7 linked regions of the Homo sapiens genome follow. The protein of the gene in region 3 purifies or fractionates together with the protein of the main gene of each other region. This does not show direct contact. Each region holds a gene or a part of one and is shown on either strand. Other genes may lie near its edges. The genes, in order: TUBAL3, HDAC3, CCT3, EIPR1, DCAF7, DCAF13 and WDR70.

Region 1 (5,132 bases), on a different chromosome or scaffold from region 3:
ATATGGAACTACCAGGATGCTAAACATTTGGGGAGTTATTGACAGAGACAGATAGGATTGACTTTATGAAGATCAAAATGAGAGAAAGTATAATTTATAATAAGTTCAGGAGAAAATTGCTGAAGAACACTATGGTTTCTTCATTTTCTCAAAGTTGTAAGGAAGAATTGGTAGAAACCAAGATTCTTGAGTAACAGAAATTTTGTTTTGATTACTGAATAATAAAATTGTTACTATGCTAACAAAACATGTCATTAATTCAAAAGAAGATCAGGAAGAAAAGAGAACTTAGAAAATGGAGACAAACAGAAAGCACAAAATAAAATAGTACTCTATATCTAAACCCAACTATATTAGTTATTATATTAAATGTAATGAGCTGAATTCTCCAATTCAAATACAAAAATAGAAAAAAAATTCAGTTATATCATGCATACAAAGAACACATCCAAAATATGAGAATATGGAAAGGTTTTAAGTTTCTAAGAATGTAAAACGATGGGAAAATACATCATTCAAATGTGAACCAAAAAACTGTATTAAAGTAGTAATATTAATATTTGATCATAAAAACTTTAAGGTAGGCCAAGGCGGGCAGATCACGAGGTCAGGAGATCAAGACCAGCCTGGCCAACATGGTGAAACCCTGTCTCTATCAAAAATACAAAAAAATTAGCTAGGAATAGTGGCACACACCTGTAATCCCAGCTACTTGAGAGGCTGAGGCAGAAGAATCGCTTGAACCTGGGAGGTGGAGGTTGCAGTGAGTTGAGATCGCACCATTGCACTCCAACCTGGACGACAGAGCAAGACTGCATCTCAAAAAAAAAAAAAAAAAAACTTTAAGGTAAAAATAATTAATGTATATAAGGAGGGTAATTTAAAAATAAAAAATTGTTAAAGTTTTTGAAAATATAATAATTTAAAATTTATGTGCTCTTCATAACATGGCCTCAAAATGTATAAAGGAAAAATTGACAGAAAAAGAAATAATGGGTAAATTCACAATTATAATGAAAACTTTTAATACATCTTTTGAAATAATTGATACGTAAAATTTGGACTACACAATAAATCCATTTGATTTAATAGATTGATTGATTGAATGATCGGTCTATCTAAAATATTGCATCCAACAAATGTAGAATGCACATTCTTTTCAACACTCATGGAATATTTTCAAAAATTGACCATATAGTAGAATATAAAGGAAGCTTTAGCAAATATATAAGGAGAGAACTCAGTTAAGATGTGTGATCTGATCTTAGTGCAATTAATAAAAAATAATAACATAAGTATATATTATGTATAATAATATAAAAGTTCAAAAGACAATAATAATAAAAACAGAAAATTCCCATATGTTTGGATGTGGTAGTGGTTGAGAGGCATGCATAGGACACAGATGTAAAAAGGACACTGTCTTGGTTTGCTGTATGTATTCAGGGATTGTTTAAATTTATTTAAGAAGATATTCACATAGTACTCATGCAATAGAAAAAGCTACTTTGCTGTTGCAGAAAATTTTACTCATACTCCTTCCTTTTCTCTGCCAATGCTAAATAAATTCTTAACCCAAAAGGGTGATTTTTAAAAGACACATGTTCTTTTCAACATAGTTATAAGTTGGACGCAGATTTGGATAAGCTCTCAGTAGTTCATCTGCAGCTGTGTACAAACTTTATCCCGGGTTGTTCAGGCCCAACACAGCTACTCTGAGACCAGATAACTAAAAAAACTAAAAAGAAGCTATACTGCTTTAAGTGAAGAAAGCTCCAGCCCTCAGGTGGAGTCATTTCCGGGCCCTGTGATAAAGCTCAGCTGGGAGGCTCCTCAGTCATTACTACAGGGCAGGAAGGGCACGTTCTCATCAGCATGGTAAGTGACTACACGCCTATGCATTGTTGTAGGAAATTTTACTAATCATATTTGGCCCTTTTCCCACAGCAAACAATTCTTAATAAAATTGTAATGCAAGAGAAGACATTTGTAAAGAAACATTTGTTTCTTTCAATGTCCAAGTAGATGAGTTGGGAGCAGATGTGGACAGGCTGTAATCTATTCCTCTGTAATGTTGCTTCTTTCAAGGTAAAGCTCAGTTGATTTGCAGTAGCTCACTGCCATTAATTGAAGCACTGAAGCAAAAACCTTTCCTTCCTTTAGTTTTCACCTTTGTTTTAGGCCCAGAGTGCTGATTTTTCTGTAGATATTCATTGCTTCACTTTTCGTTAGGCTGTTAAGAGTTTCTGAGGACTTCAGACTTAGGTAACCGTGGCTAACCTCATAAATGCCTGGCAGGGTAAAGTGCGCAGACATCTTCTTTGCCCTCCCTTGAGTTTAGTTCTTTGGGCACCACAATGAATAGAATAACTTACAATAATTCTGTTTTGGGATGACCTTTTCAGATCCATTTGCCCTTTATTTTTTTCTGTGCCAGTTTTTCAGTATCTTTGAATTTTTAATTCTTCAATGGAAGCAACATTTCGAACTGCTTCTTGATCTTTGATTTCTCACCCCATTGGTCTCTCTGTCCAACATTTAAAAAATTTTAAATTGTTTTGCTTTTAAAAATTATGCCTTTCAACATGAGAGAGACTTGTGATAATAGCATGTTCTGTATCTTATCACTGTCAACATTCTGGGTGTGATTTTGTATTATGGTCTTGCAAGATGTTTCCACTGCGGGAAATGGGTAACGGATGCAAGGGATCTTCCTATGTTATTTCTCACAGCTGCATATCAATCTACAAAGACCTCAAAATTGAAAGTTTAACTGAGAGTTATGCTTTTCTAGTAATTCAAATAATCCTTATAGCAGCGTTTAATAATGTGCTATGACTTATCAGTGTTGACGTTCAGTGGACATTTTATAGTCTTCTACTTTATAGTGTGACTAATATTTTCATAGAGAATTTGGAAAAAAAGGGAGAGGCTAAGAGAAGAATAAGGCAAAGATAGTCTTCTACACCCTTGGACAGAGTTATGTTATAAGCTAAGCTCCTTCAAAGACGAAGGATGCTTGTTAGTCCAGGCTATTCGTGCTGATTTCAAAAAGAACAGCATCACTCTGCTTTCTGAGTCACTTGAACAGACCACGTGAAGAGGAACAATCTTTTTTTTTTTTAATGTTAGTGATTATTTTTACTGTGACTATTATGAACAAATACCACATGTACACCTGAATTTTACTCGTCACTGTAACACAGGACTGGGTGGTAGCCAGTGGAGAAGACAGAGAAATCTACATGTAAACTTTACAAAGTAAGAGGTTTTAATGATGTAGAAACAATGAACGTTCACCCTCTCCTTTTAAAATGTTAACTTAAATTTAAGGAGCCAAGTTTTGATCAGATTACAGCAGCTGATGTATTTGCAGCACTTTAAGTCCGACAGAAGGGGAGAGGAATAAGATTAAGGTTATCTGAAGCCTGATAAGGGGTATTCGAAGCCTGTTTATAACAGAATATGCTGTCTTGAGAGGTGGAATATTAGTTTGTCCTAAATGAAGTGCTTTCTAAATTAGAGAGACTGATAGTTGCACAGAAAATAAACAAGATGGAAGCCCTACTAAGGTAGTGAACTTGAATTGGTCATGAAGCAGAGGGCTGTTATGCCTTGTGAATCACAGAGACAAAGTACAAAGGTTTGATGCCATTGAGCATGAACAGAGTCCAAGTCAGATTGCAGGGGTGTGGCCGACCAGAGCCCTCTCCTTACTTTCCTCTGACTAGTGGTCTGTGTAGACCAGTGGTCCTCAACTTTTTGGCACCAGGAACCAGTTTTGTGGGACACAATTTTTCCATGGAGTCGGCAGTGGGGATGGTTTCTGGATGAAACTGTTCCACCTCAGATCGTCAGGCATTAGTTAGATTCTCATAAGGAGCACACAACCTAGATCCCTTGCATGCGCAGTTCACAATAGGGTTAGTGCCCCTATGAGAATCTAATGCTGCCGCTGATCCGACAGGAGGCAGAGCTCAGTCAGTAATGCTCACTCACCTGCTGCTCACCTCCTTCTGTAAAGCCCAGTTCCTAACAGGGCACAGACTGGTACTGGTCTGTGGCCCGGGGGTTGGGGACCCCTGTGTAGACCACAGGTGAGGGATTGACAGGAGGCCTGAGGTCTTTCAGTAGTTGAATCTCAGGCTTTAGGGCAGTGTAGCCATGAACAAGGGCAGGGCTCCCCTCAGCTTATCTGGTCAAACAGCCCAAAGGGTCCTGATGATGCAGAAGACATGGGGGTCTCATTCTACAAGACCCTCTAAATAGATTTGTTTCAGCACCACAGTCAATCAAACCACACCAATATTAAGAACAGCGATTGCTATCACCTCAGATTTCTTAGAATTTAGCTTTTACTTTCCTTCTCATTTTTTTTCTTTCCTTCTCTTAAAAACGTAGATCATTGTCTGTTTAACAGAATAGTTGTTTGCCTTAAAAAAAAGATGATTTAAAGTGGGATGGGGGAATATGAAGGTGGAAGAAATAGTAAAGTTTAGACAAGAAAATAAAATCACTACCCAGATATTACTAAACTTAATATCTTGATGCATTTTCTTTTAGATTTTTATGCCTATTTTTGAACATATTGGACATCATACTCTATATGCAATCATGCATCTTATGTGCTTTTTACTTAATATGTTATCATAAGCATTTCCCATGTCATAAATCTTTTTTTTTTGGGAAAACGTTTAAGGGTTGCATAACATGTCATTGTGTTGATGTAACATCCTTTAAATGCTCAACAATATATAAATGGTTAGATTAAATAGATTGGTTTTTGGTTTTCATGCTTATGAATTGTGATGCTTGTGAATGCCATCAGCCTACATCCTTGCATTTTAGAGTCTTTCTTTTGTAATTTGTTTGTTTATATCATTTGCCTAGCTAGTGGATGTCTTAAGTGTTTTTTTTTAGAAAGTTGATGTATATAAAATCAATTTTTATCTCTATATGTTTGTTATAAAACTTTTACATTTTGGAACTGTTAAATCTATTGCATTTTGCCTTGTAAAATTTCCCACTAGTTTTAAGTTTAGTATATCCATCCTTATTCAGAGTGCATATGAATGGTAAAGATAACATTTTAAATTTATCTGCGATGAGTTTTAGTACTTGACAAGGCTATA
Region 2 (4,096 bases), on a different chromosome or scaffold from region 3:
AAGGCTCTTTGATTTCTTTGCTCTGTTAATTTTTTCGGGTGGGATAATTGCATTGTGGTTATGTTTTTTTTTTTTTTTTAAAAGTCTTTATCTTTCTGAGATACATACAAAATATTTGTAGATGGAATGAATTAGGGGGGAAAAAGGATAGGATGGAATTTTTTTTTAATCCCAAAACTTTGCTGAAAAATGAAAGGGAAAGACAACAGAACCAAGAAGTGCAGAAACAGATGCACTTAATGGGGAACAGATTTCCTTACATGACTGAGGGATAACCACAGCTGGACACTTGTGGGACACGCTGTCTTGCTCCCACGCAGGGTTAGAGGTTTGAGCCGGCTCTGCTGCAGAGCCTGATGGGCTTCTCAGCCCCTTCTAGAATCTGCTTCTGTCTTAGAATTCAGGCCTCCGAATCTCTCCTCTGGACCTGGGCTTTACTGCTCTGACTCTTGGGGATCTCTGCAACTCTCTTCCTCCAAGGATATCCCCCGATCCCTTCTGAGTGAGGAAGTGTCTGAACATCTGGAAGTGTCTGGCTTCAGGGCTTCCAGGACTATTGGAAATTGCTTTTCATTGTCTGGTTTGGTTTGGTAAAACCTGTTTTTAAGTTCTTCCTTTTGGGTTTTTTATCAATAGCTCCAGGCTGGCATCTGGACCTAGTCTCTGCATTATAATAATACCAAGCCCTGTCACAGCCAGCAGAAGCCTCAGGCCTCTTCCTGTTCCTAAGCCCTACCTCTCTGTCAGGCCACCCACTGAGTTTCTGTTCTTCTTTGATGCCTATAGCTCCAGCTTGCATATGACTTGCAGAGTAGAAATAGGAAGAGTTACCACTTTTTGTAGGTTTGCCAAGCACCAGACACTACTAAGTGCTATCTATTACAACATATATATGATCATTCTGTTGCCATCAGACAACTCTGATGGCTCTTATTTTCAGATTAACACGGGAGGAATCTAAGGCTCAGAGAGTCTAAGTAACTTTCTTTCTTTCTTTTTTTTGAGACGGAGTTTCGCTCTTTTTGCCCAGGCTGGAGTGCAATGGCATGATCTCAGCTCACCACAACCTCTGCCTCCCGGGTTCAAGCGATTCTCCTGCCTTAGCCTCCCAAGTAGCTGGATTACAGGCATGAGCCTCCACGCCTGGCTAATTTTTTTTGTATTTTTAGAAGAGATGGGGTTTCTCCATGTTAGTCAGGCTGGTCTCGAACTCCTGACCTCAGGTGATCTGCCTGCCTCGGCCTCCCAAAGTGCTAGGATTACAGGCTACAGGTGTGAGCCACCGCCCCCGGCGAGACTTAAGTAACTTTCTGAAGGTCACATGGCTAGTTAAAGATCAGGGCTGAGATTCAACCTGATTCTCTGACTCCACACCTTTAACCCTGTGCACTTAGAAGTAACTGAGACATTGCTCACCATGCAGATAAGGCCTTTCCTGGCTTAGTGCCTCAGCTTCTCTTTGATGACTTTCTCAATTCTCTGTGTCCCAGAGAATACTTTTTCTTTTCTTTCTTTTTTTTTTTTGAGATGGAGTCTCACTCTGTTGCCAGGCTGGAGTGCAGTGGCTAATCCCGGCTCACTGCAACCTCCGCCTCCCAGGTTCAAGCGATTCTCCTGCCTCAGCCTCCTCAGTAGCTGAGATTACAGGCATGTGCCACCACACCCGGCTAACTTTAGTATTTTTAGTAGAGACGGGGTTTCACCATGTTGGCCAGGATGGTCTTGATCTCTTGACCTTGTGATCCACCTGCCTTGGCCTCCCAAAGTGCTGGGATTACAGGTGTGAGCTACCACGCCCGGCTTTTGAGAATACTTTTTCAAAAAGAAAGAAACCAATATTGAGTACCTGTTGGGCCCTGTTTTGCTTTCACATCCATTCTTTCACTATGGGTTTATAATACCACGTCACTCTTCTTAAAATTAAAACTCTCCTTTACCTTGCACTTAGAAGAAAATCCAAAATTTTGACTGTGGCTTAAAAAGGTCCTGCATGCTAGCCCTTACCTACATCCAGGATCTCATCTCTAACTACTCTCCTCCATGCACAGTGCTCCCGGCTGTCCTGGCCTCCTTGTTCTTACTGGAATACATCAGTCTCTTTCCATTTCATGACCTCTGTAGTTGGTTTTCTTGCAGCTTGGAATGGCCTTCCTGAAGTCTTTGCCTGCTTAGCTCCTCCTCAGACTTTAGGTCTTATGTCCCAATAGTCCTGTCTGAAATTTCACCCTTTTCCTCTCATCACCTTCAGTCCTATCACTTCATTTTATTAATTGTACTCTCCATCATCTGAAATTATTATATTTATTTACTTTGTTAGTTACTAGTCTCATTTATTAGGTAAGCTTTTTGAGGATAGACAACCTTGTCCAGCTTGTTACTCTACTGTATTGCTAAGGTTTATGACAGTGTCTGTATAGAGTAGTTCCTTAATGTTTATTTGATACGTGAATGGGTGAATGAATAGCAGTCTCTACCAACAAGAGGAGGAGTGGTTCTCAACGGGGCCTGAGAAATGGCTTTGGAAAAGGGTGCTGGGAGAAGATTAGAACTTAGAGTGAGATCCTGACCTCTCTCCCCTTGCTTTGCAGGCCAGAGGCACCCAATGAGTTCTATGATGGAGACCATGACAATGACAAGGAAAGCGATGTGGAGATTTAAGAGTGGCTTGGGATGCTGTGTCCCAAGGAATTTCTTTTCACCTCTTGGTTGGGCTGGAGGGAAAAGGAGTGGCTCCTAGAGTCCTGGGGGTCACCCCAGGGCTTTTGCTGACTCTGGGAAAGAGTCTGGAGACCACATTTGGTTCTCGAACCATCTACCTGCTTTTCCTCTCTCTCCCAAGGCCTGACAATGGTACCTATTAGGGATGAGATACAGACAAGGATAGCTATCTGGGACATTATTGGCAGTGGGCCCTGGAGGCCAGTCCCTAGCCCCCCTTGCCCCTTATTTCTTCCCTGCTTCCCTCGAACCCAGAGATTTTTGAGGGATGAACGGGTAGACAAGGACTGAGATTGCCTCTGACTTCCTCCTCCCCTGGGTTCTGACTTCTTCCTCCCCTTGCTTCCAGGGAAGATGAAGAGAGAGAGATTTGGAAGGGGCTCTGGCTCCCTAACACCTGAATCCCAGATGATGGGAAGTATGTTTTCAAGTGTGGGGAGGATATGAAAATGTTCTGTTCTCACTTTTGGCTTTATGTCCATTTTACCACTGTTTTTATCCAATAAACTAAGTCGGTATTTTTTGTACCTTTCGCCTTTCTAGGAATGTTAATTCTTGCTAGTTTCCTATTTATGAAAGGAGAGGGAAATGGGCATGATGATGCATGTAATAAAAGCATAGTTAACATTCATTCAGCACTTATCCTACGTTAGGCCCTGTGTATGTATTCTACATTTATTATTGTAAATATAAGAAGTTAATAGAGGATTTTGGTTAAGAGTTAGACAAACCTGGGCAGATTTGAGAGGAGTAGAAGATGACTTCAGGTTTTTGAATCTGGGTGTTTAGAGTAGTGATGCTAGTTGGTGAAGATACACTGAGATAAAACATGTTAAGTGCTTAGCACAGTGCCTGACAGAAGAAGTTGCCCATTATCTGTCTATGTGAAGAACAATGCTAAATACTGTAGTAGCCACAAACATGAACCTTTCTCTAGAAGAGTTTACATTCCAGTCAGTAGTATGATAAATATTGTAGCAGATACAGACTGATACAAGAAAGAGGACTGATAGATGGGTCACTTCCTCCCCTCCATTCTCTGATTCTGTCTGTTCTCAACACTAGCTTAGAAAGTAGCTTTTGGACTTTTTAGACAAAATGTCTGGAAAGCTCAGCACTAAGTCAAGTTTGAAGTATGGGATGGACAGCTCTATGTAACATTCTATCCGATCACCATCAGAAGGTCTGGACCACAAGAGAGATGAATGCCAAATTTAGGAGCCAGCCAGCTTGGCAGAGTCCCTGGTATATCTCAGGCCCTTGACTAGGTACTGGGGCTCTAGAGTAAGTAAGTCACTGACTCTGCCCTTCAGGAACTTATGCTTGAAATCTTGCTAGCTGTGGTCAAGAATATTCAGTCCATATTGTGAAGGCCGAC
Region 3 (3,500 bases):
TGAAAGCATTCCCAAGGGGAGAAAAACAACAGAGCTAGCCACATCCTATATCTAAAGTGGCATGCTATGTCTAAAGTGATGGCTAACCATGCTTTAGGGGTGTCATTAAAAACACTGACTCTGGCTGGGCGGAATGGCTCACGCCTCTAATCCCAACACTTTGGGAGGCTGAGGCAGGTGGATCACTTGGGCCCAGGGGTTTGAGACCAGCCCGAGCAACATGGTGAGACCCCATATCTAAAAATAAAATAAAATTAAAATAAAATAAAACACTGACTCTGTGGGTTGTTCATGCCCCTTTTCCCTATTACTCCAACATTTCTCACACTGTCCTCTGATTTGTGCTTGCGTATTTTATGTTCCCTTTCCATTAGACTATTGCAGATATCATCCGAACATGTTTGGGACCCAAGTCCATGATGAAGGTAGGCTTATCTCTTCCTAAAACTCTTAGGCTACAATTTTTTTCTTCCTGTTATCTAGGACACTTTAAATATAACTTTTGCTTTCATCTTAGATGCTTTTGGACCCAATGGGAGGCATTGTGATGACCAATGATGGCAATGCCATTCTTCGAGAGGTGTGTTTTGTTTTTGGTTTTGTTTTTTTGCTTTCTGACAGTTCTGTAAACATAAAGGACCTGTTAAGATACAGGCTCTGATTAGTTTTTTAGGGCTGCTATAACAGATTACCAGAAACTGGTTGGCTTCAACAACAGAAATTTATTATCTTATAGAATGAAGCTAGAAGTCTGAAATAAAGGCGTCAGTAGGGCCATGCTCCTTCTGAAGTCTCTAGGGAAGAACTCCGCTTCTCCCTTCTGATGGTTGCTGGCTTTCTTTGGCATGAACTTGGTCTCTGCCTTGGTCTTCATGTTATTCCCCTTGTGTGTCTCTTACACAAGGACACCGGTGATTGGTCTTCGAGCCCACCCTAATTCAGAATGACCTTATCTAACTTGGTTACATCTGCAAAAACCCTATTTTAAAATAAAGTAAAATTCACAGGTTCTGGGAGTTATGACTTCAACATATCTTTTTTTTTTTTTTTTTTGAGACGGAGTCTCGCTCTTGTCACCCAGGCTGGAGTACAGTGATGTGATCTCGGCTCACTGCAGCCTCCGCCTCATGGGTTCAAGCAATTCTTCTGCCTCAGCCTCCTGATTAGCTGGAATTACAAGCGCATGCCACCACACCCGGCTTAATTTTTGTACTTTTAGTAGAGACAGGGTTTCCCCATGTTGGCCAGGCTGGTCTCGAACTCCTGACCTCAGGCGATCCACCTGCCTCCGCCTCCCAAAGTGCTGAGATTACAGATGTGAGCCACCATGCCCAGCTGGCTTCAACGTATCTTACTGAAGAACACAATTCAGCCACAATAGTGCTTCCAGTAAATAAGCTAAAAGATATCGTTCTGTCCTCTGGCAGCTTTAATAGTTGAGTTCATGTAATACACTTTTTCCCAAAAAGGATTTGGAAAGTGGTTTACTTAAGCTATTTGGGGTGCCAATTTTAATCTTTCAAGATATGGTAAAACATTAAAGGGAAAGTAAGTACGTATAGAAGCAAGAAGCCCAAGAGTTAGGGCCAAGCTTCATGAGTTCAGAGGTCTTTGAATAGTGTGAATTCACTAGTGATCTACCTTTTTAGATTCAAGTCCAGCATCCAGCGGCCAAGTCCATGATCGAAATTAGCCGGACCCAGGATGAAGAGGTTGGAGATGGGACCACATCAGTAATTATTCTTGGTAAGAGGAGAATAAGAGGTTGATAAGGAAAAATTAGAAGTAACACCTGTGTCATATTTTAAGAAGGAAATTCTGTTACAGATCCACTAATTACAGATATTTAAATAGCTTATTGGTTATTTTCTATGTATTCTCTCCAGTTGGGTATAAAACATTTATATGAATAGGGTGAGCTATGCAAATCTGGCTGATAAACTAATAGTTAATTCTCTTTATTCACTGTAAGTTATAATATTCTTTTTTTTTTTTTTTTTTGAGACAGAGTCTCACTCTGTCACCATGCTGGAGTGTGGTGGTGCGATCTTGGCTCACTGCAACCTCTGCCTCCCAGGTTCAAGCGATTCTCCTGCCTCAGCCTCCCAAGTAGCTGGGACTATAGTCACGTGCCACCACGCCCAGCTAATTTTTGTATTTTTAGTAGAGACAGGGTTTCACCATGTTGGCCAGATGGTCTCGATCTCTTAACCTCGTGATCCGCCCTCCTTGGCCTCCCAAAGTGCTGGGATTACAGGCGTGAGCCACCACGCCTATAAAGTCACCACAAACACTGAATTGGCAAATAATAAATCATTGCTTCTATAGGAAATACAGGGTTAGATACCTATAAGCCTCTGGTCACACTTTCATCAACTGATAAATATATACCTTATTGTATGTGTTTGTCTTCAAGACACCCATTTAATATATATAGTTGATTTATTAGCATTGAACTCATAGCCCATAGCAATATAACTCATGCCTGGACAAAGCTCACCTAACGTATTTTCTCTGTAAGGCACATCACAGCCTTCTTGCACATAGAAGCATTAGCTAGCACTTAAGCACTACACTTGTGAGCCATTATAAATACCGAAATCATCAAGAAAAATGTGAAAAACATAACCTTAAATATACTGCATAAAGGACACTTTTTTTTACAGTGTGAGAGCTAAAGGCCTTGTTTAACCTCACCTAGGAATGTCATTGGGTGACTCAAATTTTTTGCCATTCTGTGAATTTCCATGAATGACTATGAAAGTGTCATGAATGTTGATTTTGGGGTTACAAATAATAAGAAATGAAATCTTTAGGATAATGACCCTGGGCTATGTAAGTTTAAAGACTAATCTTTCTACTTCCTATAGGATCATAAAGAATTATTTTTCAAATCTTGGCCTATTGCCTTTATTGTGTAAATGTCAAGATGATAGTAAAATTTTTATACTAGAAACACTGGTTTTAAAAAATCTGATTGCAACCAAGTGTGGTGGCTGACACCTGTAATCCCAGCACTTTGGGAGGCCAAGGTGGGCAGATCACGAGGTCAGGAGTTCGAGACCAGCCTGGGCAACATGGAGAGACCGCGTCACTGTAAAAAATAAAAATCGGCTGGATGTGGTGGCACACACCTGTAGTCCCAGCTACTGGGGAGGCTGAGGTCGGTGAGGCAGGAGGTTGAGGCTGCAGTGAGCCGTGTTTGTGCCACTGCACTCCAACCTGGGCAACAAAGCAAGACCATGTCTCTTTTTTTTTTTGAGATGGAGTCTCACTCTTGTTGCCCAGGCTGGAGTGCAATGGCACAATCTCGGCTCGCCGCAACCTCCCCCTCTCGGGTTCGAGCGATTCTCCTGCCTTAGCCTTCCAAGTAGCTGGGATTACAGGCATGGGCCACCATGCCTGGCTAATTTGTATTTTTAGTAGAGACGGCGTTTCTTCATGTTGGTCAGGCTGGTGTCGAACTCCCGACCTCAGGTGATCTGCCCGCCTCTGCCTCC
Region 4 (3,036 bases), on a different chromosome or scaffold from region 3:
TTTGTTTTGTTTTTGAGACAAACAAAAACAAACAAAAAAGTCACCCAAGCTGGTGTGCAGTGGCACGATCATGGCTCACTGCAGCCTTGACCTCCTGGGCTCAGGTGATCCTCTCACCTCAGCCTCTCAAGTAGCTGAGACAACAGGCCCATGGCACCATGTCTGGCTAACTTTTTGTAGAGACAGAGTTTTGCCATGTTGCCCAAGCTGGTCTCAAACTCCTGAGCTCAAGTGATCTGCCCACTTCAGCCTCCCAAAGTGCTAGGATTACAGGCATGAGCCAGACTCTGTTGTTTTTCTGTTCAAACCTTAGAAACTCGGTCTGCCATAGAATAGTATTTAAGCACACGCACGGTAGCATCTGCCCAGTGGTCTCTCGGTGCCTGTGGGCCTGGCTCCCTTTACCGTCCTCTCTGCCAGTGGCCCAGGGAGTCTGCACTTCCTCACCATGTCTGTCCCTGTTAGGGGAGGAGCCTGATGGGCCCGTTGGTCGGAAGACTGCTGGCGTTGTCTTCTGGGCGGCAATGTCATGGGAGCAAGATAGGAAGGGAGGAGGTGATCGGGGCTACGCAGACTTCTTAGGACATCCCTCAGTCCTGATGTCCTGCTGCATTCAGGAAACCATGATTCCTCCTAAGGATTTGCACCTGGCATTTGTCCCACAACAGCAGTTGACCACTGGCAGGTCCACTTTGTGGGAAGCCAGCTTCCCAGAGACCATGCGAGTTCTGGAGGGTCCGTCTTGCTGGGGGGGTGAAGCATTTTCCTACAAAGAAATGCAAAAGCAGTTAGAATGCGGTACACAAATTATGTGGGAATTTTTTTGTGAAATGGGAAGTAAAGTGCCAGAGAAGCCTGTGTCCACCGGAAAGTGGCCGCTGTGAGCCGGGCAGGGCCCCCTCCCCATGCACGCTGTGCTGAGGAAGTGGTGCTTCTTGTGTGAGGATCCCCTGGTCAGGGCTCCCAGTGAGGGTAACTCACAGTCAAGGGAGGCGAGGTGGGAAACACCCTGGGGGAGGCCAGGCAGGTCACGCCTCTGCTGCTCCCACAGGGCCAGGGCGTCTTCCTCTTGGTGTCCTGGGGGATCCTCAGCCCAGCCCCACTCCCATCCTAGCAAGGCTCCTTGTGCCCCAGCCTCTGACTCCTACACAGCCAGGAGCTGGACCCGCTGCTTCCCAGGGTCCTTTCTGCTCAAGCAATAGGGGCGTTTACATCCTGTGTTACCCAGACACGGTGACTACTTCCCCCAGTCTTTCCCCTGAGCTAAAGGAAGCCCTTGGAAGACCTCCAACAAAATATCAACCCAGGCACCCGGGGGCCAAGGACAGAAGAAACCAAGACACCATGTGCCAATGTCGCCGATTTCCATAAACCTTTTGAGAAATGCCCACTCCTCACAGTGACAGTGAGGGTTTCTGGGCTTCTGCAGGGACCACCCCACCGTCCTCGGTGTGGGCTCCTCTAATTCTTCCCATCCCACAGCGGAGAAAGCTGAGGCCCCAGTACCTCCCGTGTCTCCCGATGTCAGCGCTCGCGTCCTCCCTGCCCCTCTCCTGCCCGCCCCGCCGGAGCTGCTGCGCTCACGTCTGCCTCTGTTGCATTGCAGGAGCAAGGAGCCCCTGCAGGACAACGTGATCGCCACCTACGAGGAGCACGAGGACAGCGTCTATGCCGTGGACTGGTCCTCGGCTGACCCGTGGCTGTTTGCCTCCCTGAGCTATGACGGGAGGCTCGTGATCAACAGGGTGCCCAGGGCCCTGAAGTACCACATCCTGCTATGACTCCCGGGCCTGGGTTATCCAGGTCCCATTGAGTGGTTTTCCTCTTGGCAGATTCTCAAACAGTCGCAGCTCTTTGGAGGTGACTCGTGTTCCAGGTGGATCCCTCTCTGGGAGAGCCGCTGTTCCCTTCCTGTAGCAGCAGCATTTATGAATGGGGTGAATGGGGCTATTGTCGACGGCACAGCTAATGCCCGAACCCAGCCCCTGTCGGCAGAGACAGAGCCCCACATTATTATGTGAATAACAATGTTTTCTGTTTTAAGGGTGTCAGGAGTTTCGCTTTTTAAAAAAATGTCTGTTCCTGCAATAGTAACTCTTCTTTCTCTTGAGAGTAAAAAATGAAATAAAATAAATCCACGCTGCACAGGTGCTCGGCTCATTCTTTCAGGAGCTCTGCCCTGTGACCCCATCTCCTGGGTCTTTGTCCATTTTCTCTTTCCTGACCCAGGGAAAATGCAGATGGACAGACGTGTGCTGTCTACGCCGCCCTAGCATGGAACTCCCGGGAGCCATGCTGGCTGCTGGTGGGCACCTGGCTCGCGCCCTGGGCTGAGCTGGTGTGATGCATTTTCACTGCTGTAGACGCAGGCTCTGCCCGCCCTGGGCCTCCCCTGGTCTCTGCAGCCCATCCTGTGCTGTGTCCTGCCCACCTTGTGAGCCGGGCAGGGCCTCCTCCCCACGCGCACGCACTGGTGGCCTTGGAGGTGCCGTCCTCCCTCACCTCGGAGCTTGGGGTTGGGCTCCCGCGTCTCAGTTGTCGGGGACCCCTCACAGGCTCCTACACTCATCAGTGCTTATCCTTAGGAATCCTCAAACACTGACCTCGCAGCCTCTGTTCGTGGTTCCTTTGGGTGTGCGGGGTCTGTTCTCTGTGTCTGGTGCGTGTTCCCACTGGAGAAGCCACCTGGGCCCTGGACTCTGGGCTCCATCTCCCTTAGGCCTCCACCTGGCCAGGTGTCCCCGCAGGGGCCACTTCTGCGCTCTGCTGCCCCGATCACCTCATCTGTAATGATGGGGAAGGATGGGCTGAGCTCACAGGCCCATCAGCTCTGGGGTTTGACGATTCTAGGACAAGTCTTGCCCGACCTGCAAAAAGGACACGTTCCTGCTGCAGCGCCCCCGCCAGTAGGTGTACCGTGCTGCTAAGGACGCTCTGCACCCAGAGGGCCGCATCCTGGATTTTCCTTTCATAGATGAGAGTTCACAGCGAAGTGGAGGCCATAGGGGGAGAGGTGAAAAGGTGGGGTCCTGGGCG
Region 5 (4,361 bases), on a different chromosome or scaffold from region 3:
GTAAGGAACTTCTGGAAACCCTCTTGGCATCAAGTTGAACAAGCGGCTACATTTTAGTTATATGACAACTTAGCCTGCTGTTGTCTGTTAGGTCCAACCCAGAAAATGGGAACTACTCTTAAGTATTTGAACTGCAGGGATTTAATCCAGGGGCTGCTTATACAGAAGATGGTAAAGCTGAGAAGCCACATAGGTAGCAGTGAGGTCATCCATAGAATGGGAGCAGCAGGAAGCTGCAGCTGCCTATAGGCCAGAGGGACCATGGGAGGAGGCAGGGTTCCTGGAGCCCAGGGGCTGGATTTACCTGGCAGAGACGCTTCTAGGAACAGAGAGAGGGGAGGAGAAATACCTTAGCTTTTCCCTGCCTCCCATCATCCATTTTCCCACCAAAGCCTCCCATGGCTGAACCAGCCAGAAGCAGCCAGCAGATCTGAGACCCTGCCAAATGCACGCTGTAGGAATCAGTTCTCTTGTGACACAGAGAAGAAGAGCAGGGAGAAAGGCCAGGAATGGATCTTGACAGCAGACAGGCCTGGACCGGCAGCCTTGTCTTGAAGGAATAAACCTGAGAAAGGATAGTGGCTCTAGAGAAACAGTAATAGCACCTTTCTAGCACCTTTGATTTTTCTCAGTCCACCTTTCTCTAGGAAAAGACTTGTTTGGAAGGCTCTCATTGATACCTGGCAGATCAGTGTAGAAGAGGGTTTAGTGTACTTGGGAGTTGTCACCTTCCCTTGGTTTCCCAGTGAACCATGCTAGCGGAGCACTGAAGGAGCAGTCACTTAGAGCCGAGAGAGCATTACACACTCAGCCACGCTGCCCATGGCACCTGTGGGATCTCTGTCCCTGAGGGTTACCAGGAGCTGTCATTGGGGGGTATACATATTGATAAACATGGCTGTGCCTTAAAGCAGCTGTACAGTACTAGAGAAAGCCTCGATCTGTCAGGCACGTCAGGCCTGAGTGCCTCCTTGTTGATGACTGGCCCGGTCCCTTTTGAACCACTTCTACTTCCTGCCATAGAAAGACAAGCATAATTTCTTCATAGCCAGAAAAAAAAGGAATTCGTGAGGTTAAATAGCAATAGATGCTCATTTGGCAGTGCCCCTCTGTAGGCAGAACTTCAACACTGGAGCTGTAATATTTAGTGAGAAATTCTAGTCGTGTCTCCCCAGAAGTCAGCTGTTATTATCCCCAGAAGATGAGTTTTGTTTGGCATTAGTTTTTCTGTTTCTCTCTCTATTTGTCTGTCTCTGGCTCTCTCTTCGTCCCTCTTCGTCCTCTTTTTTTTTTTTTCTTTAAGACAGAGTTTCGCTCTGTCCCAGGCTGGAGTGCAATGGCCTGATCTCAGCTCACTGTAATCTCCGCCTCCCGGGTTCAAGCGATTCTCCTGCCTTAGCCTCCCATGTAGCTGGGATTACCGGCACCAGACACCACACTCAGCTAATTTTTTTGTATTTTTAGTAGAGATGGGGTTTCACTGGGTTGGCCCGGATGGTCTTGATCTCTTGACCTTGTGATCCGCCCGCCTCAGCCTCCCAAAGTGCTGGGATTACAGGTGTAATCCGCACCCGGCCTTCGTCCTTTCTCTGAAGCTCTCCGTTGCTCTCTGCCTCTGTTTCCTCATAGACGTTAGTGATATGCAATGTTTGCAGCAAATAAAAGCAGAAAACAGTGATTCAGAACCTAAATTGATTCACTTATGATCTCAAACCAACTAGGAGAAGAAAAAACATGTCCTAGGACAAGCGGGTGCTACTAACCTATTTGTGAATACAGGAACATCTAGGCCTCCCGTGACTCAAAATTTCTGTTACCTCTTTCTTGCAAATGAGTCTCAGGTCCAGGTTTCACAGAATCAGCTTGGCTGCTATTAAGTGGCCACAGGAGGGCTGCTTTCACCTCTGTGATTGATGATCTAGGCCTTAATGAGCTCGTAGACCTGCCTCTGATTGTGCACAAGGCCCAGGAAATAAGTGTCTCATTCTTGTTGTGTGGCAGAAGACAGCCACTGTTCTGTTGGTCAGCAGGGCATGTGCCTTTGTTTTATCACGGGTTGGAGGAAGAAGACTTGGAAAGCAGGAATGTGGGAAGAAGCCAGCCAATTTCTATAGCAGAATGATCTTCCATCTTTGGGAAGCCACTGATATTAGAGCTCTCGGGTTTCAGTACTCACAGACACTGTTTGGGCTTCATTTATCTGCTTTTGTGTCATGAGCGAGGTTTAGATGAACTGGACGTGGCAGATTTCCCTCCTATAGGAAGAAGAGGTAATGGATCTGAATCTGACTGGAGCTTCTTGTTCACCAACAGGTCTATGATATTGCATTTAGCCGGGCCGGGGGTGGCAGGGACATGTTTGCCTCTGTGGGTGCTGATGGCTCGGTGCGGATGTTTGACCTCCGCCATCTAGAACACAGCACCATCATTTACGAAGACCCACAGCATCACCCACTGCTTCGCCTCTGCTGGAACAAGCAGGACCCTAACTACCTGGCCACCATGGCCATGGATGGAATGGAGGTGAGCACTCCTCTCAGGCTACCATGGGCCCTGCCTAACTCCAGCACTGCTTAGTATATCTAGAAGGCTGGTTCTCAACTGGAGCAGTTTGGCTCCCGGAGTATCTTTGGGAATGTCTGGAGGCATTTTTGATTGTCACAGCTCTAGAGACGCAGTTGGTACTATGGCATCTAGGGGGTAGAGACCAGGGAGGCTGCTAAATATCCTACAGTGCCCAGGACAGTCCCCCAGCAAAGTATATCCTACCTAAAATGACAGCAGTCCCGGGACTGAGAAAGCCTAATCTGGAATAAGAATTACTTGTTAAGAACTTTTAATTTTTGAAGAGTTGGAGTTAGAGCCAGGAAAAGCAATATCTAAAGAGTAAACCAAATCGTATGTGCCTATGGTGCTGAGTGAAAAAGCAGATTTTCCCTTCTGTAGTCTGGACAGATTCATCTAGCTTTAGCAAACAGATGTAGAAATGGCAGCCCTCTGGCCGGGCGCTCTGGGTCACGCCTGTAATCCCAACACTTTGGGAGGCTGAGGCAGGTGGATCACGAGGTCAAGAGATGGAGACCATCCTGGCCAACATGGCGAAACCTCGTCTCTACTAAAAATACAAAAATTAGCTGGGTGTGGTGGCATACGCCTGTAGTTCCAGCTATTCGGGAGGCTGAGGCAAGAGAATTGTTTGAACCTGGTAGGCAGAGGTTGCAGTGAGCCAAGATCGTGCCATTGCACTCAAGCCTGGGAGATAGAGCAAGACTCCATCTGAAAAAAAAAAAAGGCCAGGCACGGTGGCTCACACCTGTAATCCCAGCACTTTGGGAGGCCAAGGTGGGCGGATCACAGGTCAGGAGATCAAGACCATCCTAGCTAACACGGTGAAACCCCGTCTCTGCTAAAAAAATACAAAAAATTAGCCGGGCGTGGTGTCAGGCACCTGTAGTCCCAGCTACTCGGGAGGCTGAGGCAGGAGAATAGCTTGAACCTGGGAAGCGGAGCTTGCAGTGAGCGGAGATCATGCCACTGCACTCCAGCCTGGTGACAGGGCATGCTCTGTCTCAAAAAAAAAGAAAAACAAATGGCAGCTCTCTCTAGTCTGTTACTTGATTAAAGAGGTGAATTGTGGGTGGGGAGAATGCATTGGTTGTCCTTGGTTTGGTGGCGCTAGCACCTCAGATTCTGCTTTGGCTGGGCTCTCATTCCATTCATCTGAGATGCATAGAATTCTTACCACATGCACCTGCTGGGACCCAGGATTACCCAGACTCCTGTTGTCTGTTTCTGCATCTCCCCTATCAGTCTAAAGGCCCAGTGTTGCTCAAGATAGAGACTATCAACTACCCGTGTCCTTTGTCTTCTTTTCCCTCAATCCTATGGAAATCCTGTCTCTAGTTCTTTAAATCCACAAATGAAAAATTATGCCTAAAAAGATTTTTGCATGTGGATAGTATTTTTTGTTTTTTTCTATGAAACTCTGATGATCCCAGGCCTTTTACTTGTTATTTCCGCAGGTGGTGATTCTAGATGTCCGGGTTCCCTGCACACCTGTCGCCAGGTTAAACAACCATCGAGCATGTGTCAATGGCATTGCTTGGGCCCCACATTCATCCTGCCACATCTGCACTGCAGGTAATCATGGTGGGGAGAAAGAAATCTGGGAAGGATGGAGGAAATCTGTTCTCTTGGCTCCTTAGAATTGTAGTTGTTACTGTTTTCTAAGCACAGTCTTGAGAGATTTATACAAAATGACTAGTTGGAGCCTCTCCACACTTGTGAAATTCAATCAGTACAAATTTTTAGACGATCTTGTACCCTCATGGACATCAGAACATCTTCCATATATGATTTAC
Region 6 (4,361 bases), on a different chromosome or scaffold from region 3:
AGTATCTTGTTTAAAACAGGTAACATACCATATCATTCCAGTATTACACTTATTGATCCATTTATATCCCACCTTGTTTTAGTAAAGATTTGTGACAAATACATAAAGTACATAAAACTAAAAATATAATGAGTAGAGCAAAAGAAAAACAAGAACAGGGGCAAAGTTAGGTCATGCATATTGTGATAAACATGGCATTTCAACTTGGAGAAAAAATGGATTATAAAAAATGGTATTATAATATCTGGTTAGTCATTCAAAAAAATTGAGCCAATTTGATGCCTTATGTGAAAATAAAATTCCAGGTAATTTTAAATGTAAAAAATAAAATGAAAAACATGAAAATACTGGAGAGAAGGCATTGTTATAATATTGAAATAGATAAAGTCCTTTTCTGCATGAACTGCAGAAACTACTAAGTCAGTGGTTTTCAAACTGTGAACTTTGGGCCTCTGGAGGACCCTGAGAACTTTTCAGGGTCCACACAGTCAAAACTATTTTCATAATGTTAGTAAAGACATAGTTTGTCTTTTCACTGTGCTGACAGCTGCACAAATAGTAAAAAAGCAACAGTGAGCAAAACTGTTGGCACGTTAGCCCAAATCAAGGCAAAGCAACAAACTATGGTAATTTAGACATGGGTATTTGGCAGACATGTTTAAGCTATCAGGTGAAACAGACTACAAAACAGAACATATAATGTAGTTTGAGGTTGAAAACAAAATCATAAATGTGGTACTGTATAACTGCATACATACAAAACTGCTAGTTTTAACTTAAAATCTTACATTTATATATTAGATGCAATCTATATCCACTTTTTGATAAAATCATTAACAAAGATATCTTTATCTAAGGGAAGAGTATGAATGTAGCTCTTTTCTTACAGCAAATTCAAAAAGGAAAACGCTTCTTGCAAAACAGTTTACAGTGCCCATGAGATGAAAACAGATAAGTGATCAGGAAAGGTTTTGGTACTAAGATTACACAGCGATGTCTTTTGTTGAGGATGTCGATGAACAGAATCCTTAACTACATCCTTGTTATAGACAAAAAGTATTTAATAGGGCTACATCTTATTAACAACTATGAATCTGAGCCACTGGCACTATACTAAAACTCAATTCTAGAAACCTGATTCTACTGGGAGACTAAGATGTAATCTAGGTACCAGGTCTTGACTGATCTGGCTTGACCCAAAGAGACATTTTAGCACTTACAGAATACAGGATAAACTGTGTCCCTGAGCACCCCGTTCCTGAAGACGCTATCCCTCCATCAAGTTTCTGATAGTGTCTGCAAGCTCAAGACTGAATTTGCTTGTAAATGACCAAGCTGTTCTGCCGTCTACTGAGTACAAACCTCAGCGGACCACCAATTCTGGGAAGGGTTTTCTCATTTTATAGAAATGAGTAGCCGAACAAGAATATGTGCCTGGCTAGAACATCTCATCTCCAGGCTGGTTATGCTGAAGAAGGAATTGTTGGTATTACAAACTGGTATATCTTAGTGAAGTTTTAGGTAATAAAAGTTTATGTTTTGCAACACTGTGTACTAAAATTTTTAAAAACATTCTTAAAGTTGTACCAGCAAGTAGTCTTCACATGTGTCTTATCTCTGACAAAGCACACATTACTCAAAAATATCTTTTTGGTTGGGCATGGCGGCTCGCGCCTGTAATCCCAGCACTTTCAGAGGCTGAGGCGGGTGGATCACTAGGTCAGGAGATCGAGACCATCATGGCTAACACGGTGAAACCCTGTCTCTACTAAAAATAAAAATAAATAAAAAAATTAGCCGGGAGTGGTGGTGGGCACCTGTAGTCCCAGCTACTGGGGAGACTGAGGCAAGAGAATGGCGTGAACCCGGGAGGCAGAGCTTGCAGTGAGCAGAGATCATGCCACTGCACTCCAACCTGGGCGACAGAGGGAGACTTCATCTCAAAAAAAAAAAAATCTTTTTGAAAAACCGAGAAACAATAAGGTGGGCATGGTGACTCATGCCTGTAATCCCAACACTTTTTGGGAGGCTGAGACAGGCTTGAGCCCAGGAGTTCAACATCGGCCTGGGCAACGTAGCAAGACTCTGTCTCTTTAAAAAAATAAAGTGGGGGGAAATAAGTGGTGAATATGAAACATTTTCAGTCTTTATTCATTTCTTAAAATGTTTTTTATTTAATTTACAAATAAAAGATATATATTTATGATGTACAACATTGTGTTTTGATACACGTAGACACTGTGGAATGGATAAACCAAGCTAATTAACATATCTGTTACCTCACATACTTATTATTTTGTGGTGAGAACATTTAATTCACTTTCATAGCAATTGTCAAGAGAGCATGTTGTTATTAACTATAATCACAGTGTTGTACAACATCCATCCCATCTATTTGAAATTTTGTCTCTTTTGACCAACATCTCCCCAATCTCCCTCCCTCAAAGCCCCTAGTAATGACCATTTTACTCCATTTCTAAGAGTTTGGCTTTTTTAGATTCCACACAACTGAGATCATGTGGTATCTGTCTTATTTAACTTAGCATCATGTCCTCCAGGTTCATTCATGTATGCTGCAAGTGACAGGATTTCCTTCTTTCTGAAGGCTGAATAGTATTCCTGTGTGCGTGTGTGTGTGTACTTTTTTTTTTAAAATTCATTCATCCATTGCTGGACACTTTAGGTTGATTCCATATCCTGGGTATTGTGAATAATGCTGCAAATGAGCCTTTATTCATTTTAAGCATTAAAAAAAAATACACTAAGTCCTCTGGCTGAGCTATTAATCAATATATCCAAGAGAATAACCAAGTGTAAGAAGCCTTAGGTGCCATCCATTCCCACTTGCCAATCAATTCCTTGCACAACACTGGGCTTGCAGGGTCAGGCAGCTTATCTGCACCCCTCTAGTGAAAAGTAACTGAATGCTTTGCAAGGTAGCCTATTCTGCTTTTTGACAGCAAATAAGTTTTTTTTTTTTACACCAAAACCGAATCTTTTAACACTAACACCTATTTCCAGTGCCTCTCTATGGAGCAACAAATTAGTCTATTTTCTTTTTCACATGACAATCTTTCAAATTGTAGCTATCAGGTTTCCCAGAAGTCATCTTTTCCCTTTATTATTCTCTTGCAATCTAGCTTCTGCACCCAGCCAACCTGGATTGCAACCTACATTTTATAACTCAGCTCAACCTGTTTTTTAAAAAGTCACCAGTAAATAAAGAATAAGGAAGATCTATTTGACTGATTAGCGCATGTGTATACAAAAACTGTTGTATAGGTAGGTCAAAACACTTGAAAAGACATACACCAAACTAATAGTGTTAGAAGTGAAAGACTAGAATTATGCAATCTTTAATTTTCTATTTTTTACATCTCTACATTTCTAAAATGTTTTCCTCAGTCTTCATTTTTCATTATTCTTTGTAGTAGTTCACAAAACTGACTATTCCTTCCTCCTAGGACACTATGCTCATTCACAGATTCTTTGAGCTCTGGCTACTCCTAGAGTTTTCCCACTTCCCAGAGGTGGGCATTCCCCAAGGCTACTTCCTTGACATCTTTGTATTTCTATATTTTCCTCCTCATTTCCTCCCAATGATGCCATACTATGGCTTCAATGATTAGTTCTATATTGATGATGTCAAGTTCAGCTCTGACCTCCCTCCTGAGCTCCAGACCTGCATCTGTAAAGGTATGACAGACATCTTCACTCGAACAGCCCATTAGCAGTCCAGTTTGTCACATCATATCCTTCCCATTGCCACCCTTCAAAACTTGCTGGTACTCCTCAGCAACAGGAACCAACCTCTTCCCAGGCACCTCTCAGTTGTCAAACCTGTCAATCCTCCAAAGTATCAACCACTGATTTCTAGTTTTCAGTCTCCATAATAAGGTAGCCTCTTATTATTGCCTGCCAAACTATTAAAATGGCCTTCAAACTGATCACTAACTGCTGTCAAATTACTTAACTCAAAGCACAGCTCAGATTTTGTCGTTCCCCTTGTTTAAAAAGACTTTCAATGAACTTGAATTGGTATTTGTACACCAATGGTCACGGCAACACTATTCACAATAGCCAAAAGGTGGAAACAAATCAAATGCTCATTGATGAATGAACGGATAAACAAAATGTGACACATACAATGGAATGTTATTTAGCCATAAAAAGAAAGGAAATTCTGACATGTACTACAACATGGATAAACCTTGAAGACAATTATGTTAAGTAAAATAAGCCAGACCCAAAAGCCTTATTCCACATACACAAAATGGTATAATTCTTTAAAATATGCTTCTATTTATATGAGGTACCCAGAATAGTCAAAATCACAGAGGCAAAAAGTAAAATAGTAGTTA
Region 7 (4,361 bases), on a different chromosome or scaffold from region 3:
AATCCTTGTTCAAAACATGTTGTATTATATGCTTAAAATGGTAAATACAAGGTACCTATACTGTGATAGTACAAACATTCACTAAATTGTTTAAAACATTTGTAAATGCCTCAGATAGCATGTCTTTGTCCATCGTTTGAGGATATTAAAATTGTTTTTTGATGTGATGATATTGTGGTATAATATGAAATATATTTGGCCAGGTGCAGTGGCTCACTCCTGTAATCCCAGGACTTTGGGAGGCTGAGGGGGGCGGATCATGAGGGCAGGAGATCGAGACCATCCTGGCTAACAGGGTGAAACCCTGTCTCTACTAAAAATACAAAAAAAAAAAAAAAATTAGCCAGGCATGGTGTCCGGTACCTATAGTCCCAGCTACTCAGGAGGCTGAGGCAGGAGAATGGCGTGAACCCGGGAGGCGGAGCTTGCAGTGAGTCGAGATCGCACCACTGCACTCCAGTCTGGGCGACAGAGCAAGACTCTGTCTCAAAAAATATATATATATATTTGGTCTTTGTTTCAGGTTCCTGCCACAGAGCTTCTGAAACCCTTGGAATTTCCTAAGTGATAGGAGCTGTCTCTTGTTATTCATTAGAAGCCCCTTTGGATCCCACCTAAGTTTATGCTATTGAAGTGACTTAGTGCTGGACCCCTAGGCCTCAGGATGGGACTGCTGCTCACTTAAAAAACTGATGGGTTAGATAATTGGAACTTTCATCCCCACCCACCAATCTCTGGAGAAGCTGAAAATTAAGATCTGTAGAAATTTTTTTTTTTTTTTTTTTTTTTTTGAGACAGGCTCTCGCTTTTTTACTCAGGCTGTGATGCAGTGGCATGATCATAGCTCACTGCAGCCTCAACCACTGGGCTCAACTGACCCTCTCACCTCAGCCTCCCAAGTAGTTGGGACTACAGGTGTGCACCACCATGCCCAGCTAATTTTTGTAAGATTTTTTGAATGGGATCTCACTGTGTTAGCCCAGGTTTATCTCAAACTCCTGGGCTCAAGTGATCCTCCTACCTTGGTCCCCCAAAGTGCTGGGATTATAGGTGTGAGCCACTGCACCCAGCCTAGACACTCCTGAACCACTAGATGTGATTAGCTTCAGGGTAGCTGAACACAGGGGTATGCTGGGGAGTTGGTGCACCCAGAGAGGGCACAGAAGCTCTGCACCTCTCCCACCCCATACCTTGCCCAGTGCATTACTTCATCTGGCTGTTCATCTGTATCATTTATAATATTCTTTATAATAAACTGTTAAACGCAAGTAAAGTGTTTCCCTGTGAGCCGTCCTAGCTAATTATCAAACCAAAAAGAGCGGTCATGGGAACCCTGATTTATAGCCAGTAGATTAGAAGCACTGGTCACAACCTGTGAATTGAGATTAGTGTCTGAGTGAAGGCAGTCTTGTGGTAGTCTCCAGGCAGACGGTGTCAGAATTAAACTGAGTTACCGGATACCCAGTTGGAGAACTGGTTGATGTGTGGGGGAAAACTCCTACATATCTGGTGTCAGAAATAAAGTACTGGTTCACACCTGTAATCCTAGCACTTTGGAAGGCCAAGACAGGTGGATCACTTGAGCCCAGGAATTCAAGACTGGCCTGGACAACATGGTGAAATTTTTTTTTTTTTTTTTTTTTTTTTTTGAGACAAGAGTCTCACTCTGTCGCCCAGGCTGGAGTGCAGTGGCAAGATCTCGGCTCACTGCAAGCTCTGCCTCCAGGGTTCACGCCATTCTCCTGCCTCAGCCTCCCAAATAGCTGGGACTACAGGCGCCCGCCACCACGCCCAGCTAATTTTTTGTATTTTTAGTAGAGACAGGGTTTCACCATGTTAGCCAGGATGGTCTCAATCTCCTGACCTCGTGATCCGCCCCTCCCAAAGTGCTGGGATTACAGGCGTGATCCACTGCGCCTGGCCAACATGGTGAAATCTATCTCAACTAAAAATACAAAAAATTAGTGGGGTGTGGTAGCACCAACCTATAGTCCCAACTATTTGGGAGGCTGAGGTGGCAGGATTACCTGAGCCTGGGAAGTGGAGTCTGCAGTGAGGCAAGGTCATGCCACTGCACACCTGTCTAAGCAACAGCAGTGAGACCCTGTCTCAAATAAAAAAAAAAAAAAAAAAAAAGGGGGGAAAGTACTGAGAGGAGTGCTAGAGGATAGGAAACAACTTGGTTTTTCCTATCTCTTACAGGTATCTTGGTTAAGCTTTTTTTAAAACAATCCTTATCGTTTTAAGGTATATACAAAAATATTTATGAGTAAAATGATGTCCAAGATTTGCTTCGAAATCATCTGAAAGGGGAAACGAAGTAATGCTAGCCATGAACTGTTACAGTAGTTAAATCTGATTGATAGGTACATGGTAGTTCATGACTATACTTCCGTGTTTGAAATTTCACATAATAATGAAGGGTTTTGCTGGGTGCAGTGGCTCACACCTGTAATCCCAGCACTTTGGGAGGCCAAGGCGAGTGGATCACGAGGTCAGGAGATCGAGACCATCCTGCCTAACACGGTGAAACCCCATCTCTACTAAAAACACAAAAACAAAATTAGCCAGGCGTGTTGGCAGGCACCTGTAGTCCCAGCTACTCCAGAGCCTGAGGCGGGAGAATGGCATGAACCCGGGAGGCGGAGCTTGCAGTGAGCCAAGATCGCACCACTGCACTCCAGCCAGGGCGACAGAGCGAGACGCCATCTCAAAAAAATAACAATAATAATAATAATGATGGGTTTTGGCCTGGCACAGTGGTTCACACCTGTAATCCCAGCACTTTGGGAGGCCGAGGCGGGCGGATCACCTGAGGTCACAAGTCCGAGACCAGCCTGGCCAACATGGCGAAACCCCGTCTCCACTAAAAATACAAAAAAATTAGCCAGGCGTGGTGGTGGTCACCTGTAATCCCAGCTACTCAGGAGGCTGAGGCAAGAGAATCACTTGAACCCAAGAGGCGGAGGTCACAGTGAGCTGAGATCACGCCATTGCACTCCAGCCTGGGCGACAGAGCAGGCCTCCGTCTCAAATAAAACAAATAATGAAAGGTTTTTTTCAAAAAATAGTACATGTAGATGGCTTTCTTTTCACCACAAAAAGTTTTCTTCCAAAGACTGAAAATATTTTTTGTCAGGCACACTGCCAAATACTGGATATTGCTGCTGTACAACGTTTTATTTTTTATTTTAGTTATTTTGTTTTATATTTTATATTTTATTTTATCTTATTTTATTTTAAGATGGAGTTTTGCTCTTGTCGCCCATTTTATTTTATTTTATTTTTTTTATTTTGAGATGGAGTTTTGCTTTTGTCGCCCAGGCTGGAGTGCAATGGTGCGATCTCAGCTCACCACAACCTCTGCCTCCCAGGTTCAAGCGATTCTCCTGCCTCACCCTCCCTACTAGCTGGGATTACAGGGGCCCAACACCACACCCAGATAGTTTTTCTATTTTCAGTCAAGACGGGGTTTCACCATGTTGGCCAGGCTGGTCACGAACTCCTGACCTTACGTGATTCACCTGCCTCAGCCTCCCAAAGTGCTGGGATTACAGGCATGAGCCATTACACCTGGCCCATTGTTGGTCTTAAAATGATAAATTGGGCCGGGTGCGGTGGCTCACACCTGTAATCCCAGCACTTTAGGAGGCAGGCAGATCACAAGATCAAGAGATCAAGACCATCCTGGCTAACATGGTGAAACCCCATCTCTACTAAAAATACAAAAATTAGCTGGGCGTGGTGGCGTACACCTGTAGTCCCAGCTACCTGGGGGGCTGAGGCAGGAAAATTGCTTGAACCGGGGAGGTAGAAGTTGCAGTGAGCTAAGATCGCACCCCTGCACTCCAGCCCAGCAATAAAGCGAGACTCCATCTCAAAAACAAAACAAAACAAAACAAAAAAACAAAAAGCGGGGCACAGTGGTTCACGTCTGTAATCCCAGCACTTTGGGAGGCCAAGGTAGGCAGATCACAAGGTCAGGAGTTCGAAACTAGCCTGGCCAACACAGTGAAACCCCATCTCTACTAAAAATACAAAAAATTAGCTGGGCGTGGTGGCATGTGCCTATAGTCCCAGCTACTCGGGAGGCAGAGGCAGGAGAATCGCTTGAACCGGGGAGGTGGAGGCTGCAGTGAGCCGAGATCATGCCATTGCACTCCAGCCTGGGCAACAGGGCGAGACTCCATCTCAAAAAAAAAAAAAAACAACAGTGATAAGTAGCATAACAACATTCTTTTCTCTCTTTGTTCTCTGAGATGGAATTTCACTCTTGTCCCCCAAGCTGGAGTGCAATGGGGGTATATCAGCTCACTGCAACCTCTGCCTCCCGACTTCAACTGAAGCCACTGCCTCAGCCT

The links.
Region 1: the proteins of CCT3 (region 3) and TUBAL3 purify together in Homo sapiens (affinity purification with mass spectrometry; 3 studies listed by BioGRID and IntAct, with this or other methods). This does not show direct contact.
Region 2: the proteins of CCT3 (region 3) and HDAC3 purify together in Homo sapiens (affinity purification with mass spectrometry; 3 studies listed by BioGRID and IntAct, with this or other methods). This does not show direct contact.
Region 4: the proteins of CCT3 (region 3) and EIPR1 purify together in Homo sapiens (affinity purification with mass spectrometry; 3 studies listed by BioGRID and IntAct, with this or other methods). This does not show direct contact.
Region 5: the proteins of CCT3 (region 3) and DCAF7 purify together in Homo sapiens (affinity purification with mass spectrometry; 5 studies listed by BioGRID and IntAct, with this or other methods). This does not show direct contact.
Region 6: the proteins of CCT3 (region 3) and DCAF13 purify together in Homo sapiens (co-immunoprecipitation; 3 studies listed by BioGRID and IntAct, with this or other methods). This does not show direct contact.
Region 7: the proteins of CCT3 (region 3) and WDR70 purify together in Homo sapiens (co-immunoprecipitation; 3 studies listed by BioGRID and IntAct, with this or other methods). This does not show direct contact.

The regions. Positions count from the first base shown.
Region 1 is NC_000010.11:5,401,536-5,406,667, reverse strand, and holds the start of TUBAL3 (tubulin alpha chain-like 3), read left to right. Parts: upstream 1-1,839; 5' UTR 1,840-1,875; coding exon 1,876-1,878; intron 1,879-5,132. UniProt on the Homo sapiens protein: Tubulin is the major constituent of microtubules, a cylinder consisting of laterally associated linear protofilaments composed of alpha- and beta-tubulin heterodimers.
Region 2 is NC_000005.10:141,620,030-141,624,125, reverse strand, and holds the end of HDAC3 (histone deacetylase 3), read left to right. Parts: intron 1-2,588; coding exon 2,589-2,658; 3' UTR 2,659-3,245; downstream 3,246-4,096. UniProt on the Homo sapiens protein: Histone deacetylase that catalyzes the deacetylation of lysine residues on the N-terminal part of the core histones (H2A, H2B, H3 and H4), and some other non-histone substrates.
Region 3 is NC_000001.11:156,331,793-156,335,292, reverse strand, and holds part of CCT3 (T-complex protein 1 subunit gamma), read left to right. Parts: intron 1-374; coding exon 375-425; intron 426-517; coding exon 518-580; intron 581-1,649; coding exon 1,650-1,746; intron 1,747-3,500. UniProt on the Homo sapiens protein: Component of the chaperonin-containing T-complex (TRiC), a molecular chaperone complex that assists the folding of actin, tubulin and other proteins upon ATP hydrolysis.
Region 4 is NC_000002.12:3,188,079-3,191,114, reverse strand, and holds the end of EIPR1 (EARP and GARP complex-interacting protein 1), read left to right. Parts: intron 1-1,606; coding exon 1,607-1,781; 3' UTR 1,782-2,145; downstream 2,146-3,036. UniProt on the Homo sapiens protein: Acts as a component of endosomal retrieval machinery that is involved in protein transport from early endosomes to either recycling endosomes or the trans-Golgi network.
Region 5 is NC_000017.11:63,581,189-63,585,549, forward strand, and holds part of DCAF7 (DDB1- and CUL4-associated factor 7), read left to right. Parts: intron 1-2,313; coding exon 2,314-2,523; intron 2,524-4,022; coding exon 4,023-4,140; intron 4,141-4,361. UniProt on the Homo sapiens protein: Involved in craniofacial development. Acts upstream of the EDN1 pathway and is required for formation of the upper jaw equivalent, the palatoquadrate. The activity required for EDN1 pathway function differs between the first and second arches.
Region 6 is NC_000008.11:103,421,618-103,425,978, reverse strand, and holds part of DCAF13 (DDB1- and CUL4-associated factor 13), read right to left. Parts: intron 1-4,361. UniProt on the Homo sapiens protein: Part of the small subunit (SSU) processome, first precursor of the small eukaryotic ribosomal subunit.
Region 7 is NC_000005.10:37,381,949-37,386,309, reverse strand, and holds part of WDR70 (WD repeat-containing protein 70), read right to left. Parts: intron 1-4,361.